Linked DNA regions of Homo sapiens: region 1 is reported to be linked to region 2. Evidence: microRNA targets listed by miRTarBase, many of them from high-throughput screens and not tested one by one. Region 2 holds a microRNA gene; the other region holds the end of a gene's coding sequence.
The links. Region 2 holds the annotated microRNA hsa-miR-4450 (UGGGGAUUUGGAGAAGUGGUGA, at 1,168-1,189, opposite strand). A microRNA usually pairs through its seed, bases 2 to 8, with sites in the 3' UTR of a target mRNA and lowers its output. Matches are read on the target gene's strand: a 7mer-m8 pairs with bases 2 to 8, a 7mer-A1 pairs with bases 2 to 7 and ends in A, and an 8mer does both.

Region 1: the mRNA of THBS1 is a reported target of hsa-miR-4450. Seed matches in the 3' UTR shown: 7mer-A1 at 852-858.

What each region holds. Positions count from the first base shown.
Region 1 is chr15:39,595,186-39,598,185 of GRCh38, forward strand. THBS1 (thrombospondin 1) reads left to right here. Exons shown (of 22, transcript NM_003246.4): 22 at 177-3,000. The coding sequence ends at 184. It also overlaps a transcript of FSIP1 not described here. Among named protein-coding and RNA genes, the nearest start is that of THBS1-IT1, 11 kb to the left of the region's middle.
Region 2 is chr4:76,571,761-76,574,760 of GRCh38, reverse strand. It overlaps MIR4450 (microRNA 4450), which reads right to left and starts at 1,193; the gene lies at 1,129-1,193. The region is part of intron 2 of SHROOM3 (shroom family member 3); the gene reads right to left.

The DNA.
Region 1 (3,000 bases), not on the chromosome of region 2:
GCATCAATGTCAGCTAATAAAATTAAATGCTAATGTGCTTGAACAACCTTAAAATTAGGCTTTTGTCATTAGAAAAGTAGAGCTATTCCTATGTGGTTAACTTATTAACTAAGATGTCTATGCTTTTATGAATTAGTTTTCATTTGTATATTTATTTATATTTGTTTATTTAACAGATCCCTAATCATCAAATTGTTGATTGAAAGACTGATCATAAACCAATGCTGGTATTGCACCTTCTGGAACTATGGGCTTGAGAAAACCCCCAGGATCACTTCTCCTTGGCTTCCTTCTTTTCTGTGCTTGCATCAGTGTGGACTCCTAGAACGTGCGACCTGCCTCAAGAAAATGCAGTTTTCAAAAACAGACTCAGCATTCAGCCTCCAATGAATAAGACATCTTCCAAGCATATAAACAATTGCTTTGGTTTCCTTTTGAAAAAGCATCTACTTGCTTCAGTTGGGAAGGTGCCCATTCCACTCTGCCTTTGTCACAGAGCAGGGTGCTATTGTGAGGCCATCTCTGAGCAGTGGACTCAAAAGCATTTTCAGGCATGTCAGAGAAGGGAGGACTCACTAGAATTAGCAAACAAAACCACCCTGACATCCTCCTTCAGGAACACGGGGAGCAGAGGCCAAAGCACTAAGGGGAGGGCGCATACCCGAGACGATTGTATGAAGAAAATATGGAGGAACTGTTACATGTTCGGTACTAAGTCATTTTCAGGGGATTGAAAGACTATTGCTGGATTTCATGATGCTGACTGGCGTTAGCTGATTAACCCATGTAAATAGGCACTTAAATAGAAGCAGGAAAGGGAGACAAAGACTGGCTTCTGGACTTCCTCCCTGATCCCCACCCTTACTCATCACCTGCAGTGGCCAGAATTAGGGAATCAGAATCAAACCAGTGTAAGGCAGTGCTGGCTGCCATTGCCTGGTCACATTGAAATTGGTGGCTTCATTCTAGATGTAGCTTGTGCAGATGTAGCAGGAAAATAGGAAAACCTACCATCTCAGTGAGCACCAGCTGCCTCCCAAAGGAGGGGCAGCCGTGCTTATATTTTTATGGTTACAATGGCACAAAATTATTATCAACCTAACTAAAACATTCCTTTTCTCTTTTTTCCTGAATTATCATGGAGTTTTCTAATTCTCTCTTTTGGAATGTAGATTTTTTTTAAATGCTTTACGATGTAAAATATTTATTTTTTACTTATTCTGGAAGATCTGGCTGAAGGATTATTCATGGAACAGGAAGAAGCGTAAAGACTATCCATGTCATCTTTGTTGAGAGTCTTCGTGACTGTAAGATTGTAAATACAGATTATTTATTAACTCTGTTCTGCCTGGAAATTTAGGCTTCATACGGAAAGTGTTTGAGAGCAAGTAGTTGACATTTATCAGCAAATCTCTTGCAAGAACAGCACAAGGAAAATCAGTCTAATAAGCTGCTCTGCCCCTTGTGCTCAGAGTGGATGTTATGGGATTCTTTTTTTCTCTGTTTTATCTTTTCAAGTGGAATTAGTTGGTTATCCATTTGCAAATGTTTTAAATTGCAAAGAAAGCCATGAGGTCTTCAATACTGTTTTACCCCATCCCTTGTGCATATTTCCAGGGAGAAGGAAAGCATATACACTTTTTTCTTTCATTTTTCCAAAAGAGAAAAAAATGACAAAAGGTGAAACTTACATACAAATATTACCTCATTTGTTGTGTGACTGAGTAAAGAATTTTTGGATCAAGCGGAAAGAGTTTAAGTGTCTAACAAACTTAAAGCTACTGTAGTACCTAAAAAGTCAGTGTTGTACATAGCATAAAAACTCTGCAGAGAAGTATTCCCAATAAGGAAATAGCATTGAAATGTTAAATACAATTTCTGAAAGTTATGTTTTTTTTCTATCATCTGGTATACCATTGCTTTATTTTTATAAATTATTTTCTCATTGCCATTGGAATAGATATCTCAGATTGTGTAGATATGCTATTTAAATAATTTATCAGGAAATACTGCCTGTAGAGTTAGTATTTCTATTTTTATATAATGTTTGCACACTGAATTGAAGAATTGTTGGTTTTTTCTTTTTTTTGTTTTGTTTTTTTTTTTTTTTTTTTTTGCTTTTGACCTCCCATTTTTACTATTTGCCAATACCTTTTTCTAGGAATGTGCTTTTTTTTGTACACATTTTTATCCATTTTACATTCTAAAGCAGTGTAAGTTGTATATTACTGTTTCTTATGTACAAGGAACAACAATAAATCATATGGAAATTTATATTTATACTTACTGTATCCATGCTTATTTGTTCTCTACTGGCTTTATGTCATGAAGTATATGCGTAAATACCATTCATAAATCAATATAGCATATACAAAAATAAATTACAGTAAGTCATAGCAACATTCACAGTTTGTATGTGATTGAGAAAGACTGAGTTGCTCAGGCCTAGGCTTAGAATTTGCTGCGTTTGTGGAATAAAAGAACAAAATGATACATTAGCCTGCCATATCAAAAACATATAAAAGAGAAATTATCCCTAAGTCAAGGGCCCCCATAAGAATAAAATTTCTTATTAAGGTCATTAGATGTCATTGAATCCTTTTCAAAGTGCAGTATGAAAACAAAGGGAAAAACACTGAAGCACACGCAACTCTCACAGCGACATTTTCTGACCCACGAATGATGCCTTGGGTGGGCAACACGATTGCATGTTGTGGAGACACTTCGGAAGTAAATGTGGATGAGGGAGGAGCTGTCCTTGCAATGTTGAGCCAAGCATTACAGATACCTCCTCTTGAAGAAGGAATAATAAGTTTAATCAAAAAAGAAGACTAAAAAATGTAAAATTTGGAAGGAATCCATAAATGCGTGTGTGTCTAAATACAAATTATCATGTGAAGAAAAGGCCCAAGTGTACCAATAAGCAGACCTTGATTTTTGGATGGGCTAATTATGAATGTGGAATACTGACCAGTTAATTTCCAGTTTTAATGAAAACAG
Region 2 (3,000 bases):
CCTTATACAAGTGGAATCATTTACAGTATTTGTCTTTTTGTGACTGGCTTATTTCACTTAGCATAATGTCCTTAGGGTTCATCCATGTTGTAGCATATATCAGAATTTCCTTTGCTTTTAAGGCTATACATTTCTTTTTTTAATCACAAAATGATTTGAGTTTATGTAGCTAATCAATCAATTAGATTAAGAGGGAGTATCCGGTCTGTCTAATAAGAGTTTAGGCATGAAAAATGGTAAGAAAGGCGTTGGTAGAGAGGGAGAGAGAGAATTTGCTGAAATATTTAATGCCATGGTTCTTTAGGGTGCATCAGAATCATGGGGAAGACTTGGTAAATCAGATTGCTAGGCTCAAACTCCAGAGTTCCCAATTCATTAGGCTTAGAGCAGGGCCTGGGAATTTGTATTTTCCAGAAGTTCCTGGGCATGATCACACTTTTGACAACCATTGTAACCTATCCAGGGTGAGGCCTAGAGGATTCTAATTGCCAAAATTTTCCCATCGTGCAAAGAAGATACCCCTCCCAACTAAGACAAGAAGCTTGAAGTTATAGAAGTAGGGAAGCACAGAGAAGAGTGAGAAATAGTGAGAAAACCCAGCCCTCAAGATCCCAGCAACTTGTGGAAATGAGGGAAAAGATGGTGGCAAGTCAAGCTGTGAGGACCAAGTTCTGATTTCTCTTCTAGCCTCAGGGAGGAGAGGGAAAGTGTGTGAGCTAAGTGAGGAGAATGTCAAAGGGCTCAGGGAACCCTGGCTCCACTGCACCATTTGAGACCCTAGGAGAAGGTCACTGGAGTAGGTCTGGCCTGGCTCAATTTCGAGGTCTCTAGAGGTCCAGACAGAAGGAAGAATCTCAGACATCAGACGGCAACCAGCAGACTTGCAAGGAGGCAACTATGGTGGGGTGAGATGATCCTAGGATGGGCCCTGGGTCAGGAGTTGCTGGGATGAGAGTTTGGCAGATGCTAAGTTGTCTGAAGCTAAGGGGAGCTGAGCAGAGACTGAATCTGTAAGTGTGGGGTTGCCAGCAATCCCAGGGGCATTGCCCAGGCCATGGCTGACCATGGATTTACCAGCTGCAGGATTCAGCGTTGGAGGCCAGCAGTGGCTGGGAAGGCTATGGACAGAGCCAAGGGACCAGGGGAGATGGTGCCAAAGACCTGCGCTCACCACTTCTCCAAATCCCCAGACACTGTTTAGCAAGACAGCTGGGCAGTGGAGAAAAAAGATGACATCTGAGCAAGGGAGGATTTTATTTCAGACTGAGCCCCTTAAGGGACTATTCAAATTGATTGGACCAGGTGAGCTTTTAACTTGGCCAGGAATAAAAATTATTATTATTATTATTATTATTATTATTATTATTATTATTATTATTGCCAACCAGCAGAAGTGGGTTTGTAAGGAAGACAAGGAACCTACATTTTTTTCTATACATCTAAATTGTCATGTGACTAGGTTTGGTAGATAAAATTGGGTACCTACTTTGACTAAAATAAATTCAATGATTATCAGAAATTCAAATTTAATAGGACATCTGTATTTTTAATTGTTAAATCTGGCCACCTTACCTTGTTGTGCCTGTTGAGGGCAAGTGACAGATCTAAATCTCAATTTTATTGAGTTTCAAGCTTGTGTTCATATTTCTTTCTTTCTTTTTTCTTTTTTATTTTTTTTTTGAGACAGTGTCTAGCTCTGTCACCCAGGCTGGAGTGCAGTGGTGCAATCTCAGCTCACTGCAACCTCTCCTCTTGGGTTCAAGCAATTCTCCTGCCTCAGCCTCCCAAGCAGCTGGGACTACAGGCGTGTGCTACCACACCTGGCTAATCTTTTGTATTTTTAGTAGAGACAGGGTTTAACCGTGTTGACCAGGCTGGTCTCGAACTCCTGACCTCAAGTGATCCACCTGCTTTGGCCTCCCAAAGCGCTGGGATTACAGGCTTGAGCCACTGAACCCAGCCTGTGTTCATATTTCATAAGCAGTTGGGTAGCAGAGAAAACTAGTTCAGAATAAATCTCTTCCTACCCACAAACCATAAAGGGGCAAACCCGTACACTGTTATACTGCTAGAGCTGCCCCTAAAACATGCCAATCACTTTTTTCCAGTATATTCAAGATGCAGATATTTACATTTGAACGATCACAATATCCCTAGAAAACAACTCCCAAAATTATGAAATGAGTCTTTAAACTGTATATACTATTAGGATATCTGACACATCCTCTGTCCCTCACCTCCCTGGCCCACCATCATTGACCACTAAGGTTTCCTACTGACTGCACTGGGAATAGTCCTCAGGGGAAGTGTCAGTCACACAGGGAGACCTCAGGATGCCCCAGAACATGCAGGCTGCAGTGGCCAAGGTCAGCCTTTATTAAGATCACTTTCTGCCCATGACCTGAAGGTCCTGTCACCTATCACGGTATACAGTTTGTCACTGAGATTACACCATTGGGAACTCACTCCTTTAGGGTAAGATGTTGACAACCTGCAAAATTGCCCTTTAAAATATGAATAGTAACTTTATTATTCCCGTTGTATGTTAGTGCAAGATTGTATTGTTCTCAAAGGACATTTACTATTCTTAGCCATGTCAAAGATTAGCAAATCATCTCCTAGCAAGGCTCTGAGGGAGTAAGAAATGCAAAGGCAAGTTTGGATGAGGATCCAGGAAAGAGGCAGATATGGAGGAACAATTCTCAGGAAGGAAAGATTTTAGGGAGATTGGGCTGGGGGGCGCAGTATGGAGGAAGCAGAGAGAAGATGGGAGTAGCTTGAGTGCTTCATTAGGATGCTGTTAATAGCAGAGCACAAAGACAAATCTCAACTTCTTCAGAAGCTGTATTTGACCCACGTACAGCCCATCTCACAATGGACACAGAGACTTCTAGATCTATGAATAAGTACTAGTAAGACTAGTACAGAATCCTAACATCATTTATCAGGCTTCCACTATTTGGAAGAGAAATGATAAAATCTTATTGGAAGTCTCAACTA